Linked DNA regions of Homo sapiens: region 1 is linked to region 2. Evidence: fine-mapped QTL for protein levels in blood plasma. A gene starts in region 2. The other region holds a variant in brackets. All regions are shown on one strand. Distances are between the middles of the regions. Region 1 overlaps GRK5 (G protein-coupled receptor kinase 5). Region 2 holds the start of GRK5 (G protein-coupled receptor kinase 5).

Region 1 (8,332 bases), 44 kb after region 2:
TGAGAAGGAATCTGGGATGCCGGGGTCAGATCCGTGCCCTGGCCCGAGGATGGGATTTTGTACCCCGTTGCTTTCTGCAGTTGTGATGAGGTGGTGCTTGGCAATGGCCTGGAGCTCGGCATCTGAGTGACTGTCCGTCCTAGGGCGTCCAACTCCAGACCTCTCTTACCCAGGCCAGCGGAGGGCGGAAACTCTGAGAACATTCCATTAGAATAAGATACGTTTAATAAGAGCAATGGAAAATGGTAAACCTGACTTGGGGAAAGGGAATGTGCTCTTTCATGTAAAACAAACAAACAAAAAATGTGACTGTGAGAAGCATCCAGAAAAATACGATGACCTGGAGGCTGGATTTAAAATTGGCACTGAGGGAAATCTCATTTCCACAGTCGATGACTCCCCCTTCAGCTATGTTCATGCCAGTGGAGCAAACCAAAATAACTTTATAAATTAAAGTTTATGTAGTCAGGAAAGCTATGCCTGGACTATCACACACCAGATGAAACCCTTGAAGGCTTTGTTTACAACCGACATCCTGGGGTTGGAGGTTAATAGTGTCTGGAGAAGGTTAGGTCATGCACATGTTTAATAGCAATTAAAACAAAATCACTGGTGATGGTCAAAGAGACACAGCTATGTTTATTTACTATAGTTTATGCCACCTTTGTTTGTTTGTTTGTTTTGCCCTCTGGAAAAAATGTCTTTGTCCTGCCATAATTAATTGTAACCAGCTTTTGTTTAGAGGGGGCCACATGGAAACTGCTCAGAGAGCTCAAAGTGTGTTGGCAAGTGGTGACTTGTAACTAGTACCTCAATCATTTTCTTTTATGATACACATAATAGAAGGATGCATTTGGGATGTAAAAGTTTCAAATTATAGGGGCACATATATATACAGACAATCATGAAAGTCCCCCCCACCCTGCCTGGCTGCTGACATTTGGTGATAATCTTTCCAGACATCTTTCTAAATGCTGACTGTTTATATGTGAGTGAACAAGTGTTTATATCCATATGCACACAAATACGTAATTAGCTTTATTTTTATTTTAATTTCTTTTGAGACAGGGTCTCAGGCTGGAGTGCACTGGTGTGATCATAGCTCACTGCAGCCTCAACCTCCTGGACTCTAGCAATCCTCCCACCTTGGCCTCTGAAGGAGCTGGGACTATAGGCATGTACCACCACACCCAGCCAATTTTTAAATTTTTGTGTGGAGAAAGGGTCTTGCCATGTTGCCCAGGCTGGTCTCAAACTCCTGGGCTCAAGCAATCCTCCTGCCTCTGCCTCCCAAAGTGCTAGGATTATAGAAGTGAGCCACTATCGCTGGCTGTTGTCGTTATTTTTGATCCATAAAAAGAGGGTCATGATGTGTGTGTTGATGTACAGCTTGCTTTTTTCACTTACACATCCAGAGTTCCTTCACACTGGCCCATGTGCAGATGACATTTTTTTAATCCTGCAGGGCGTTCCATAATATGAATTCTGTTCCTAATTTATTGAGCCATTTCCTCACCCTTTCTTTTTGATACTAAATGAAGCAATGATAGCATGAGATTATGAATGTGCCTTGTGGAGCTTAGACTGCCTGGCTTTGAAACAGGACTTAGACTAGATGAGTGACCTAGGGCAGGGGGTGGCAAGCTATAGCCTCCATGGCAAATCCACCCCGCTGTGTTTCTGTAGGGCCTGTGAGGCAAGACTGATTTTTTCATTTTTAAATGGTTAAAAAAAAAAGGTAAGTATTTCCTAATATATGAAAACGGTGTGAAATTCAAAATTCAGTGTCCATTAACTTGTTTTGTTGAACAGCATGCTCATTTGTGGATCTATTATCTAGGGCTTTTTTCATGCCACAGAATTGAGTAGTTGTGACAGAGACCATATGGCCCACCTAGAATATTTACCATCTGGCCTTTTACAGAAAACATTTGCCGACCTCTGACCTAGGGCAAGTTACTAATCTCTCCATGTCTCAACTTTCTTTTCTTTAAAATGGAGATACTAGCTGGGCGCGGTGGCTCATGCCTGTAATCCCAGCATTTTGGGAGGCTGAGGTGGGTGGATCACCTGAGGTCAGAAGTTCAAGACCAGCCTGGTCAACATGGTGAAACCCCGTCTTTACTAAATATACAAAAAAATTAGCCGGGCATGGTGGCGGGTGCCTGTAATCCCAGCTACTCAGGAGGCTGAGACAGGAGAATAACTTGAACCCAGGAAGCGGAGGTTGCAGTGAGCCGAGATCGTGCCATTGTGCTCCAGCCTGGGCAACAAGAGCGAAACTTCGTCTCAAAAAACAAAAAACGAAAAACAAAAAGGAGATACTAATAATACCTACCTTGTAGGGTGAAGTGACTTAATATATATATCAAATAAATATCATATGTAGAATACCTACTTTGTAGGCTTATCTAAGTTACTTAGTACATATATCAAATAAATATTATGTGACACACCAGGTATATCATGTATCAAATATGTATGAATTGTGTGTAAACACTTTAAACATTTTATTTTATTTTATTTTACTTATTTGAGATGGAGTCTCACTCTGTTGCCCAGGCTGGAGTGCAATGGCGCGATCTCGGCTCACTGCAATCTCCATCTCCCAGGTTCAAGCAATTCTCTTGTCTCAGCCTCCTAAGTAGCTGGGACTACAGGTGCGCTCCACCATGCCCATCTAATTTTTTAAATATTTTTAGTAGAGATGGGGTTTCATCATGTTGGCCAGGCTGGTCTTGAACTCCTGACCTCAGGTGATCTGCCTACCTCGGCCTCCCAAAATGCTGGGATTATAGGCGTGAGCCACTGCGTCCAGCTGACTTTGAACTTTTTAAATGCTCAAAAAAGTTTACTATTACTGTGTCATTGTTATTGTAAGTGCATAACTCTTTGTGCACGTGTGCAAGGATGTCACAGATACCTGGCAGTGGGCTTAAAGATGAAGGGTCTTAACAAATTGCCTTCCAGAATGGCCCCACTAAGTCATGCTCCCAACAGTGGAGTCTCTGCTTTCCCGCATTCTTGGCAACTCTGGATAGGGACTAGGGCTTAGAAAAGAACACTGAATCCTCAAAGAGCCTCTGACCTCCACAGAGGCTCTTCAGAGTCTAGGAGTGCTGTGCCCAGACCTGTGGGGTGAATCTCCCTGGAAAGCCTTCAGTCAGAACATGCTCATTGTTTGTTGAGTGAGAGTCTCTTCTGTGTTAAGCCTTTGACCTGTAAATTTTCATTTTACAGATGAAGAAACTGAGGGGCTCAGAGAAATTAAATCACCTGCTCCAGGTCCTGAAGCTACTTGTGGATGTAGGGTTTGAACTCAGTTGTGGGGGCCTTCATACAACTTTCTTTGCCATTCTCCCTAATTCCAGGAAGGATAAGGCAACGTCAGAGATAGTCATTTTCTTTAACTTTTTCTTTTTCTTTTATTTGAGGCAGGGTCTCGCTCTGTCACCCAGGCTGGAGTGCAGTGGCGTCATCACAACCTATTACAACCTTGATCTCCCAGGCTCCAGGCATCCTACAGCCTCATTTAAATTTTTTTTTTTTTTTTGTACAGTCAAGGTCTCACTTTGTTGCCCAGGTCTTGAACTCCTGGACTCAAATGATCCTACTGCCTCGGCCTCCCAAAGTGCTGGGATTACAGGCATGAGCCACTGTGCCTGGCCCTACACCACATATTCCATCCACACTTTTTCCTTAAGTCAGCACCTTGATGACTGGATCAGAGCTACACACAAAATTGGAAGTGAACGTTGGAGAA[A/G]GTGGCTTAGTCATGACCTGTGTTTATCTCCTCTTGCTCTGAGTAAAGAGGATGTGTAATAGAGTATGTTACTATATTTTTCATATCCCGATGCCATAGCCTGTGCTGCCCAGTCACACTGAGAACAATGCAGTTCTCATAGATAACCCGTTGTTGGGTGATATGTCTATTTCTAGGCATCTCCACGCTCTCCTATCGAGGGCCTTTGCAACAGTATTTCCCATGTTCCATCAGCGCGTCTGCAAAACATGAAGCAGCTTCATTCACCCAGAGACTCCTGACCTTGTGCATGAGGGGAAAATGTTTCTGGTTTTGTGTGTGTTTTCAATGACGAACATTTGCATTCTTTCCTCCCCTCACTTTTTTTTTTTCTCACGTTGACATTAAGAAACAACAACAAAACGCTGCTTGCTCCCAAACTGTTTGAATTTAAAACTCTGAATCTTAATTTGCATAGACAGTAGTTCTTTACAAGGAATGTGAACCATTTGACAGAATTTCCTGAAGGAACAAAGAGCCATGATTTCCTGATTAAAACCATGTTAAAACAAAAAGCAGACTATAACCAAAAGGCTCTGTAAGAGTATTTCTTGTTCAATCAGATTTCAAAGGCAGCACAAGCTGGATGTTTATGGCATCACCAATGCCTTTCTGTGATGCCTGAGCTTTTCAAGAACATACTCAGAACTTTGTCTTAAGCCTGTCTTTACTCGGAGCTGTCTCCCGAAGCCTTGGCCTTCCTCTCCGCAGCTTCAGTTACTGAGTCACTGGAACAGAGGAAGAAGCCCAGGCTTCCATTCTGACAGGCTGCGAACATTTATCTGGAGTTGTAATTGTCATACTCCCACGTTATTTTCTTGCTGTCTTCTAAAGCGATGATGAAAGATGTCTGGGGGAAAGAAAATAAAACAAAAAACCTTCTAGCATCTACACACCTAAAGCAGGGTTTGTCAACCTTGACACCGTTGCCATCTGGGGCTGGATAATTCTTTGTCATGGGGGCCGGCCTGTGCGTTGGATGATGTTTAACAGCATCTGTGGCCTTTAGCTTCATAGTTATGACAACCAAAAATGTCTCCAGACTTTGTCAAATGTCCTCTTGGGGGTAAAATTGCTCCTGGTTGAGAACCACTCGCCTCGATTTTGGTGGTCTAGAATTTGCAAGCTGCTTCTCCGCCCTGTGCATATCCAATCCTCAGCCCTTCCACTAAGGATTAGAACTTGATTTTCTTCTTTTCATCCCACCCTCCCTGCCTTGAGATATTGCTGCATCTGGACAGATGTGCCAAGTACAATTCTGGCTCAGGTGACTGAAGTCTAAGTCAGACATATGTCTTCACTCTCCCTGACCATCCCTCTTGCTGCTGGCCTGCGTGGCGTGCTCGTGCCGATAGGGGCAGCTGTGTGAGTAGCAGGACCATCCTGGAGACAGCCATGCAAAGGGAAACCATCTGGGTGGGGTGAGCTTGCCAGCCCCAGCTACAGGTCCTGGTGGAGTTGACAGTTGATGGATCACTGTGCTGTGACCTCTGGGCAGCCCAGGCCTGCGACGGGCAGAGAGCTGTCTTGTTTCTCCTTTTGGAACCTGAAGGGCAGAGACAGGGTGAAGTTGCCAGGAGAGGCTTTCAGCTGGATCCTAGGGGCCAGCGTGCAGCCCTTTCCCAGGGCTGGGGGTAGGGGAGAAGTGTCTCTCTCTGGGCCGTGTGGATGGGCCAGAACCCTGAGCTGGGTGCAGAGGGCTACGCTGGAGAGGCGGGGAAGGGCACTGGACCGGGTGTCTCGAGACCTGGGCATGGTTTTAGTTCTACCCCGGGTAGCAGCACGATCTTGTGCAAATAGTGTCTTCCTTCTGGTCCTCATGTTTCTCGTAAAGCTGACTTCCAACTAGAACAGTCTACCTTTCTATTTTTCTCCTGATTTGTAGAAAAAGATGGTGCTGTTAAGAGACGGAAATGTGGCCTTCCTAAATTTGCTTTGAGTCCTGAGTTCCTGATTTGGGGGCAAGTGTCTGTGAAGGGCTTGGGGTCACTCTGTGGCTTTTGCCTCATTTTTATGGGTCGTAGAGGATACCTCAATAAATAGCATTTTTCTTCCCTGAACAAATTGAGAGATGAGGCCATGGTTGAAACTTTGAACTTTGGAACTTGCCCAGATGTATCAGGTCAGTCACCCTCCTCCCCTGGGGCCAATAAACCAAGTGTTCCAAAGGCCAGGTGGTCTTAGGGAAAATGATGGACCCTGAAGGGTGAGGGTCATGGCCAGTGTGGACTACAGAGGATCCCCTAGCCACACTGGAGAGGGGACAGTGCCCTGGTTTTCCTGATACGCCCCCTTAGTGCTCAAGGCTGGTTTCAACCCTGCTGTACTAATCTGCTGATGAGGGAGAGTTGGTGGCTCAGTGGTGACAGCACAGGTTTGACAGAGGGTGTCTACACCACCCAGTGCCCCCTTGAGCTCACATCTGAGGGTCTGTTGAGATTACAGAGGCCCTTGATAGAGTCCGAAATTTGAAGGACAAGCAAGGAAGATTGGAGCATCTGTGAACTATCTCCAGTTCAGCATTGCATTAGAAAAGGAATTACATCAGGTCACTGATGTCTTCTCCTAACTCAGTGATCTCCACAGCCCCCTGGATCCTGCCAGGCCTGTGGAGAAGAGGGACAAGCCAGCCTCCCCACCACCCCTGCCCTCCGTTCCTTTTATATTTAAATCAGAAGCTTAGGCTCCTCCGTGTAGCTGCTCTATTTTTCATGCCTCTTGCCTGGGTCTAAGCCCTGGAGCTTAGGGTGCTGTGATATGCTTGCGGGATGCTGCCCCACCACGGCTGGAACCAGGGCTTCAGCCCGGCGCACACCCAGCTCGTTTGGAGGTCACGGCTCACCATAAAAATGGTGTGAGTGGCCAGCTCTTTTTTCACTGTGGCTCTGGGCAGCCCAGCCCAGCTCCGGGGTGGATGCAAGGCCTGAGAGTGAACTTTGTTGTGAATGATGACACAATTCCAGAAAAATGCAGTGTCTCCCAGATACGGCTTCTGGAGCTTTGCCTGGGGTGGGGGGCTGGAGGTTGTTTAGTGTTTGGGTTCCTGGTGGTTCTTTGCCCCAGGGGTGTGTGTGTGTGTGTGTGTGTGTGTACACATGTGTGTGCGTGCATGCTTTTTCATGAGGCACACTTATTTTCAGATGTTCACATGGACTCTTTTTGAGATTCCCCAGGGGAAAAGGAGAAAGTACAGAAAGCCGTGACACCTGATGGAAAATATTACGCTTTAGTCAACAGGGCTGATGTGTCTCCTCTGACTTTGCCTTTAAACCAAACCACACCACAGCGGGGAAAGATGAGCCACACATGAGGCCTGCTGGGCCGGTGACTGTCCCCTAAAGTGGGACTCTTGTAATTCTAAGCGCCTTTGAAAAATGCTTTCAGAATCATCCAGTACTTGAGTTGTAGGGGGCCTGAAAGGTCATCTTGGCCCAGTGGCTTGTTTTAAAGGAGGAGGAAACTGAGGGCCAGAGAGGACCTATGACCCTCCCAGGGTTGCACAGCTAGAACTCAAATCCTGTCTCTTGATCCTCAGAGAAGGGTTTGGTCTGTTCTGTTCTGCCCTACTTTAGTTTTTAGACAGTGTATTGTGATAAGTTTTAGATTTTTTTTTTTGTACTCTGCTCTTATTCATTCAACAACTCTGGGGATTTACTGGGGAACAGGCAGACCTGGTCCTTGTGCTCAGGGGGCTTACAGCCTAATGGGAAAGGCAGCTTGGAACAAGAAACCGTGCATGGGATTTGTAGCGGGTGTGGCTATCTTATTTCTGGCCAGTATGGGGAGGGAGAAGGGGTGGGAGTTGATGGCTGGGGCACGGAGGATGTCATTTCAGCTCTGTGGCCTGGGTCAGGTGCCCAGCCCAGCAATCTGAGTGTGGATGACTCTGGACTATTTCTCCAGGAGGAGGTGGGATTCACAGGCAGAGACATATCAAAACAGGGACCTTGGGATGTATGATGTATTTTGTAAGAAAAAAATGGAAAAACAGGCCGGGCACGGTGGCTCACGCCTGTAATCTCAGCACTTTGGGAGGCTGAGACGGATGGATCACCTGAGGTCAGGAGTTCGAGACCAGCCTGGCCAATGTGGTGAAACCCCATCTCTACTAAAAATGCAAAAGTTAGCTGGGCATGTTGGCAGGTGCCTGTAATCCCAGCTACTCAGGAGGCTTAAGCAGGAGAATTGCTTTAACCCAGGAAGCCGAGATTGCGCCATTGCACTCCAGCCTGGGCGACAGAGCAAGACTCAGTCTCAAAAAAAAAAAAAAAAAAAGAAGGAAAAACAGAGTAGAGCAGGAAGCTCTGTGTATGTATGCGCAGGTAAGGTCGTCAGGTGGGAGGAGGCCAGGAGATGAGCCATTTGGAAGCCCGGAGGTGGCCTTGACTTCCCTGATGGGAGGAGAGAGAGCTGCTGGGAGAGATAGGATCCAGGGAGGGGTGTGGCACAGGCTTCTGGAGGGACAGCAGCTATGGCCAGAGGTGGATCTCTTATTCTCAGGGGTATCAGGGACCCAGGCTCTTTCCACTT
Region 2 (8,332 bases):
GAACTCTGACCCAGCAGCTTTATTCATGGCAGATACAGGTGCTGAGAGAAGAATTTGAAGGTTCCCTGTTTCTTTTGCTTTTTTATTTTTTAGAGACAGTCTTACTCTGTTACCCAAGCTGGAGTGCAGTGGGGCGATCATAGCTCAGTGCCACCATACCTGGCTAATTTTTAGGTTTATTTCGTAGAGACAGGGTCTCGCTATGTTGCCTAGGTTGGTCTCGAACTCCTGGGCTCAAGCGATCTCCACCCCCCCATCCCCTGCACCCTTGCTTTAGCCTCTAAAAGTGCTGGGATTGTAGGCATGAGCCACTGCATCTGACTTCTTTTGCATTTTTGGCTCAGCTGCTCCTGAGTGGAGTCTGAAGCTGGCTGTCTTTGACATATTCCCATCCCTCCATCCTCACCCCCACTCCTCCATTTGGATTTCCCTTCTTGCTCTCAGCTGGCTGTCAATGATTCCCTACTTAGCTATTTATATTTAATAGCCTACTCTTCCTTGAATCAAACCCATTTTTCAAGAAGACCACGAGTTGTTAGTGCAGTTAATTGAAAGGAATAAAGCCATAATGGTGGAATTATAGATGAAAATGGAAAACCCCTTGAAATCTTAATGATTTAGTCAACTGGGTGCTTTGCCTTCTTATAATACAAGTTCATCCCGGCAGCCACACAGAACAGTTACTACCAAGCTGTGCTGGCTAGCTTGCGCAAGCCAGAAATTAAGTGCACCAACTCTGAGTCAGGCTGACAGGTTCAAATCCCGGGTCTTCTACTTATTACTTATGTGACCCTGGACAAATTATAAAACCTTTCTTTTTTTTTGAGGAAAAAAAAAAAGTCTCACTCTGTTGCCCAGGCTGGAGTGCAATGGCATGATCTTGGCTCACTGCAACCTCTGGCTCCCGGGTTCAAGTCATTCTCCTACCTCAGCCTCCCGAGTAGCTGGGATTACAAGGCACCTGCCACTACACCCAGCTAATTTTTGTATTTTTAGTAGAGACGGGGTTTTACCATGTTAGGCTGGTCTCGAACTCCTGACCTCAGGTGATCTGCCTGCCTTGGCCTCCCAAAGTGTTGGGATTACAGGCGTGAGCCACCGTGCCCGGCCTATAAAACCTTTCTTAACCTGGTGCTTTATCTATAAAATAGGCCTGTGTTCCCTACCTCATCTGGATATTGTGTTCAAGGAGATAATCCATTTAAAAGACCACAAGAGCCTGGCCCACAGTTGGTGTTGAGTAAATGCTAGCCATTATTGTTCCATTCTTGCATTGGAGTGTCTGAATTTCCTCATAGAGGCACAAAAACCTGATGTACAACCATGTATTTGTGTAGGCAGGATGCAACAGCTTGTAGTGGACAAAAAAATAGTCTAACACTAACTTGCTGAGTGACCATGCCAACTCACTTACTTTGGGTCTGTTTCACATCTGTAAAATGAGAGGGAGAGGCAGGGGTTCCCAGGATGGAAAACTTAAATGTCTATACAGGCCAGATAAATAAAATCACTAGTGACTTGGGCTGGGTATAAGACAATAGGGAGTTACGGTAAACTAGAAAGCTTTTCAACTCTGAGTGTGGTCTACTGACCACGAGGATCGACAGAGCCCTGGAGTTTGTTAGAAAGAGCAACATCTCAGAAACCACCCCAGATCTATCCAAATGCAATCTGCATTTTAACAAGATCCCCCGTGATTTGTATGCTCATGAAACTTTGAGCCAGGCATGGTGGCTTATGCCTGTAATTCCAGCACTTTGGGAGGCAGAGGCGGGTTGGATCACTTGAGTCCAGGAGTTCAAGACCAGCCTGGCCATTATGGCGAAACCCCGTCTCTACTCAAAATACAAAAATTAGCCAGTCATGGTGGCACACACCTGTAATCCCAGCTACTTGGGAGGCTGAAGTACAAGAATCATTTGAACCTGGGAGGCCGAGGTTGCAGTGAGCCGAGATTGGGCCACTGCACTCCAGCCTGGGTGACAGAGTAACTGTCTCAAAACAAAACAAAACAAAAAAACAAACAAAAACAACCTTTGAGAAAATTGTTTTTTTTTTTTTTTTTTTTTTTTGGTTCGGAGTCTCGCTCTGTCGCCCAGGCTGGAGTGCAGTGGCGCGATCTCGGCTCATTGCAACCTCCGTCTCCCGGGTTCACGCCATTCTCCTGCCTCAGCCTCCTGAATAGCTGGGACTACAGGAGCCCAACACCACGCCCGGCTATTTTTTTTTTGTATTTTTAGTAGAGACAGGGTTTCACTGTTAGCCAGGATGGTCTCGATCTCCTGACCTCGTGATCCTCCCGCCTCGGCCTCCCAAAGTGCTGGGATTACAGGCGTAAGCCACCGCGCCCGGCCCAAGAAAATTGTTAAGGTGCATAAGCCATCTAAAGGCATTCAAAAATTTTCTTTCTTTTTTTTTTTATGTTAGCCGAATAAACAAACTTCGGGCTTCATCAGGCCCTATGCTGCCAGCAAGTGACCAGCGTGGTTGGTGGAGGGCTCTAGGAGCTGCCAGCTTTAGGGGTCTCGCTGTCTGAGAGAGATCCTTTCATTAAAGGTTAGGGCTCTAGGCACGTGAATATGTAGCAAAGACCAAGCCTGGATTGCTTAGAACAGTAATTCCTGGAGTGGTAAGTGCCTGAAAAGTTACCCGCTGAGCCCTCCGCCTTCTGACAGGTAAACTGTTGTTGCCCCCATTTTGCAGACAAGATAAATGAGGCCCTGGGAGACTCACTGACCCAAGTCTAGACACCAGGAAGTGGTGGTGGTGGGTATACTCCCCCAGGAAAGCAGGTAATCTTGGGTTGTTACAATCAGTGACCAGACCAGTTTCCAAGGCCTGGAAGGTTTATTGATTTCTTTATATTCTCCAATGCATAATAACTGTTCTCTGTTTCTCTCGGCACCTCCCTGCGACTTCCTGGCAGCCCTGGGGACAGAGGGTTTCCTCCTTCTGGACAGAGAAGGCCCAGAGTCGGCTTCTGAACGGATATCCGGCCCGCAGGATGCAGAGGAGGCAAAGGCCTCATTGTTCTTTGGGGCCTGCCTGCCCCGCCCCCAGCTGTAGGACACTCGTGGCAGATCCCGGGTGACCGAAGACAGCCCATTTCCAGGAGTGGGGCCTTCGGAGCGGAGGGAGCAAGGAAACGGGGCTGAGCACAGACCTGGAGTCTGATGTTCTGAGCATAACACTGGAAGGAGCTAAGAGCCCCAAAATAAATAAGACCGGAATTTAAAAACGTTAATCCCACGCCGGCTTGGCGCTGGCCTGGCTGTTACTCATTAACGCTCCCCACGGCGGAGACTCCGGCGACTCCGTCTGCGTTTTTATTACTTAATCTGGCTGGGTTTGGCTGCAGGGAGGCTCGTGGATTTGCTGGCCGGGTGTGCTGGAAGGCAGTTTATTCACAGAATAAGCAGCTTCCCACGCTGGACCCTGAGCCCCAGGCGCCGTCCGCGTAGACCCCGCGCCGCGCACCGCGGCCGGCGGGGGGCGCTCGGGTCGCACCGAGAGCAGCGCGGGCAGCCAGCGCCGGGTCGCAGCCGACCCGCAGAGCCCTTCGCGCCCTCCGAGGAAACAAAGTGCATCTTTGTCCGCGGCCCGAGGCGCCGCGTGGGAGACGCTGGGCAGGGGCCAGGCCGGGCCGGCCGCCGCCGCGTGCGGGGACCCTGGGCGCGCGTCACTGACCCGGGACTCAGACCCTCGCGGGCCTGGCGCGGACCGGAGGAAGCGGGCTGTGGCGCGCGGCCGAGCTGGCAGCCCTCCCACTCCGAGCACGGCTCGGGACCCGCACTGGCTCCTGCCGGGCCGCGGCGCTTCACGCGCCGTCACCGGGGCCCGTGCACTCCGCTTTCCGGGCTGGCGACGGGGCGGGAAGGGGGCAAGCGGGAGCCTGCGGGGGGGTGCTGGGGACTTCGGCTTGGCTGGGCCGCCTTTGAGTCGCCTGTCGGCCGGGCGGTGCCCGCCTTCGCTTTCGGTGCCGTCCCGGGGCGGGTCCTCGCTCCGACAGCCGCGCGCCAGCCCAGCTCAGCCCCGGCGCCGCGCGGCCGGGAGGACTCCAGCTCCCAGCAGGCCCCGCGCCGCGAGCACCGAGGCAGGAGGCGCGCCTGGGCCGGCGCTTGCGCAGTGCGGCCGCCCGAGCCTGCTAGTACCACACCCCCGGGAGGGACTGAGGGGAGGCAGAAGCATCCGAGGCATTAAAGCATCCGAGGGAGCCGGAGGGGAGGAGAATGGAGTGACAGAGACACGCGGAGGGTGGGGGGTGGGGGGGAGCGTGTTGAGGGAGGGGGGAGGGGGGACACAGAGGGAGGAAGAAGCGGCGGCGGCGGCGGCGGCGGCGGCGGCTCCTCTTTGCAGAGGGGGAAACTCTTGGGCTGAGAGCAGGAATAATGCGGTAGGCAAGGCGGGCTGCTGGCTCCCCCGGCTCCGGCAGCAGCGGCGGCAGCCCGAGCAGCGGCAGCAGCAGCGGCAGCACCCCAGGCGCTGACAGCCCCGCCGGCCGGCTCCGTTGCTGACCGCCGACTGTCAATGGAGCTGGAAAACATCGTGGCCAACACGGTCTTGCTGAAAGCCAGGGAAGGTAAGAGGCAGGGCCGGTACGTGCCCGGCGCGTCCGCCGCGGGCCAGGGTGCGGGTGTCGGGTGGCGTGCGGGCTGGGGCTGCGCCCGTGCAGGATGCCCGCTGCCGGCGAGTGGGTCGCGAGCAGGACACTTCGGAGAGCGGCTCTGCAGACCCTTCAGGGTTCCTGCCTTGGGGCTCAGAGAATCTGGACTTGGGCTGAGAAGGTTGCAGGGATTTGGATGCTAACATATCTCCTAGTTTCCAGCGCTCGCCCTGCAGAGCGTGCCATCTCGGCAGCTGTTGAAAGGTCAGTTGGAAAAGCATTCATTCGGGGAGCGACGAGCAAACATGCACATAAAATAGCGTTTCAAGTCGGCCCGGGATGGTTCTGTGTGAACTGGTGTGTGTGTTCGAGGGGCGGGGGTGGAATGAGCAGAAGCCAAGTCTTTGCCTGCGCAGGCTGAGTTGATATAGACTATTGCTGGAAACCATCCGCTGGGATGTTTCTTAGGGAAATCCCGTCGTGTGGAAGGAAGCCTTTTAAAGGCAAAGTCAGATGTTGAGGAATTAGCCTTTTCATAGAATTATCAAAGGATGGCTGTACAGACCACCTAGAAAATAATTCAGTATTTCAGGTTTTTCTTTTCTGGGAGTGTGATAACTGAAATTGTTAGATTTTGGCTCAGTTAAGAAAAGAAAGGTAAGTGTGCTGGTGCTTTAGATACGTTTTCTATGCAAATCATTAGATTTCCTGCATTTAGCTGGCAGGAAATATTGTCTAAATGGAGTGTGTAAGATCCTGAGTCAAACCCTAAGAACGCATATTTTGACTCTTCCTTTTGATGAAAAACAGAAAAAAGGGGGGGGAGGCAGAAACTTGGGTGCTTCCTGAAATGATTGTGTTGTGTCCATGTAAACATATGTATTTAGGAATACCTGGAATTTATGTCGCATATTTTCCTTTTTTTTTTCTGGTCAAGATTTGAGCTCTAGTGTGCGACCTTTTTCATAAAAGGGGAAGAGGTTTTTCCCTTTCACGGGAGAACGCTTTATTTGATACAAGGTAGAAGGCAGACTGAGTAAGGGCTTGAGTTTAGAAGGATACTCGGTGAGCAGCCCATGAAAATGTCTTACCTGCTTAATATTTTCATTCACCTACTTTGATGAATGAAGGGAAGAATTTCTGGCCAGCAATAAAACGATTCGTGTTTATTCAGCCCGTTCCATCACCTTGTGGCTCCCTACACACTGTGGGGGTAGGTGATGCATAGCCTTCCGTGGGCAGCGTTTCAGCAACTCAACCCGGCATTCGTGTCTTACTTTCGTCGTCACTTGTCACTCTAAAGCAGCCAGTGGGCAAGAAGGTTTATTTCAGAAGCCCCGAAGGGAGGCAGTGCTTTGAAAACCCCAGCAGAGTTTAAAATATTCAGGTTAGTCTCCCTCCCATTGCTTAGCTTTGGTGGGAATAAATTTTTAGGAGAGGCTTGTTACTTGGTGACTTCAGGTTCTAAGGCCTGAGCTGTGTGTGTGTGTGTGGTTTTTTTTTTTTTTTTTTTTTTTTTTTCCTAACCTGACATTTTTAGTGGACAGGATCTAGGTGGGTGCTGGTAGGCTCTCCTCTGGGTTGGGGAATGGTCCTGAAAGGGAGGAAGCAGAGAAAACAGCCCTCCACCTCCCCCGCCCCTCTTTCAGCCTTTGCAGCTGGCCACCTAGTGGTGGGACACGGTTGTGTATCTCAGGATTCGGGGGCTGGGAAAGTTTTCACTCTCGCTCCATTCTGAAATTATTTCTTGGGAAATCACTGGGTCTGATGGTACTGGAGCCTTGCAAGTTTCGCTGGTTCCTCCTGTTGCCCAGGGAATCTGCCCCCGACATTTGCTGCTGTAGATATTTGTTTGCCTGATAGATGCTTTTTTTCTTCCCTGAGCATTTGGTTGCTTCTTTTATAATGCTTTGCTTAGAGTGGGCAAAGTGATATCAATTCCACCCGCCCCCTCCAAATTGTTCTCCCCAGTATTTTTTCACCAACGTGAATTTACTGTCTGATATTGTTGTTCGTTAGGCCAACAAATTGGGTTTTTTTCCCAGAGCCTTGGAGAAGAGAGCTGCAGGCTGGAAGCTTGTGTGGAGTGACCGACTCCCATTGGGGCAGAATTACAGTGATTGAAAGTGCTCAAGAATGTGCCTTTCACTTTTTTTTTTCCTTTTAAAGGCTTTTTCAATTTTGCTGTGAGAGTTTGGTCGTCATCTCATGGTGAGAAAATAGCTCTTGATGATGCCTTGGAAATGGAGAGGGCCTGCGGAAGCAGGGAGAGACTGACACGTGAACAAGAAAAATTAATCATTTAATGGAAACCTCATTTACAATTTGCATCTCTCCCCTTCTTTCTCTCTTATGCCTAGAGGAAAGCCATGATTTTAAGTGCTTCCAGTTTCTTTTGGCTGGGCCTTTATTAGAGACTTGAGCCCATATATCCTAATTAGTGTGGACACTTTTAGAAATTAAAGCAATTTATGTTTCTCTTCTCAGTTCTCATATATTTGAATTTATTTTACTAAACTTAGTAGTTCTCCAAATAACCATATTATCTAAATATTCAGAAATGAAATCTTCAGTCAGTTTAGTGAAATATCTAATATAAAACAGTATATTAAAAAAATCTGAGTTGTTTAAAAGGTTTAAAAACACTTCTTAAAGATTCTTGTCAGTGGTTACAGATGAGAAATATAATTGGCAAATGTGAAATTTAATTTAGTTCACTTAACAAAATACACCGTAAGCAATTTAAAATTTGGCTTTCAAGTAAAAGTCACATTTGTCCCAAACAATAGAGAAACAGACCTTGAAGAAAGACAGGCACACTTTGAAAATGCTGTAAAATAATTTGTAGTTGTCCATGTTGGTGGGTAACACTGGGACCTATCTTTTCTTTTTGTTTTGCATTAAAGACAGATGGCTCCTAAATTCACTGTATCTTCAAAGTCTTACCGTAATAAGACATAATATAAAGTGGAAAGCATTAATGTAGCAATAAAATAGAAAGCCTGTAAGTGGATTAGAGTAAAATGATGGATTGTTAGTAATTAGAAAATATAGCAAGCAAGCTTCATGAACACTTGTGATAATTATTTTAAAATAAGAAAAGGTAGAGGTATGGGTTCAAGATTTTGAACCACGGAAATGTATTTTGGGGCCTGTTTATTTGTCCTGGGTCTCATGAGAAAACATCAACTCGATCACTCTTAGGAACTTTAGATTGCTCTCCTAAAAAGTGCTTAAGGAAAAAAAGAAAGAAGTTGAGACTGAATTCATGGCAATTTATGGGAATGAGCTAAGTGATTAAGCATTTCATGAAAAAGAGGCCCAGACTAACTCTATCTATTTATTTACATTTCAGAATCTCAGAAAATTGGCAGGCGACCTAATGTTGAAATAATAATGAGAAGGAGAGTTTGCTGAGTGCCTTTTGTGTGTTTCTTTTTGGTTTTATTGTTGCAGTAAAGGTTTTTGTGTTTTTCTCATCTTCTAGATCTGTTGCCTTTCTTCTGAGTGAACAGTGGTGAGAAAAAATTTTGCAAGGCCCCGCTTTTCCTTTCTTCACAGGCCAGCAGTAGCCATATCTGATCAAAAAAGATACCTGAAGGAATATTGATCACATTTTCCTGAGGCCCTAGCAAGCACAGGAATTGAGAAGTTAGGACTGGAACAACTTTGTCATTTGTCACAATTGCCAAACATTAGAATACACAGGAACCGTTTTTTCAGGTAACT

Evidence for each region. PIP is the chance, under the fine-mapping model, that this variant and not a neighbour inherited with it causes the effect. Protein levels are from antibody-based Olink assays in UK Biobank. Linkage for the fine-mapping came from a reference panel and not from the study's own genotypes, which makes the PIPs less certain.
Region 1: its variant is fine-mapped to the plasma level of the GRK5 protein (UK Biobank, PIP above 0.99).

The regions. Positions count from the first base shown.
Region 1 is chr10:119,246,981-119,255,312 of GRCh38, forward strand. The region is part of intron 1 of GRK5 (G protein-coupled receptor kinase 5); the gene reads left to right. Among named protein-coding and RNA genes, the nearest start is that of GRK5-IT1, 43 kb to the left of the region's middle. The variant A/G (reference allele first, on the strand shown) is at 3,764.
Region 2 is chr10:119,203,391-119,211,722 of GRCh38, forward strand. GRK5 (G protein-coupled receptor kinase 5) reads left to right here and starts at 4,181. Exons shown (of 16, transcript NM_005308.3): 1 at 4,181-4,579. The coding sequence starts at 4,528. GRK5-IT1 (GRK5 intronic transcript 1) reads left to right here and starts at 5,031. Exons shown (of 2, transcript NR_186528.1): 1 at 5,031-5,260; 2 at 8,091-8,332. RefSeq lists enhancers at 2,688-2,767, 2,878-2,927, 2,948-3,057 and silencers at 3,398-4,227, 4,438-4,507, 4,558-4,607.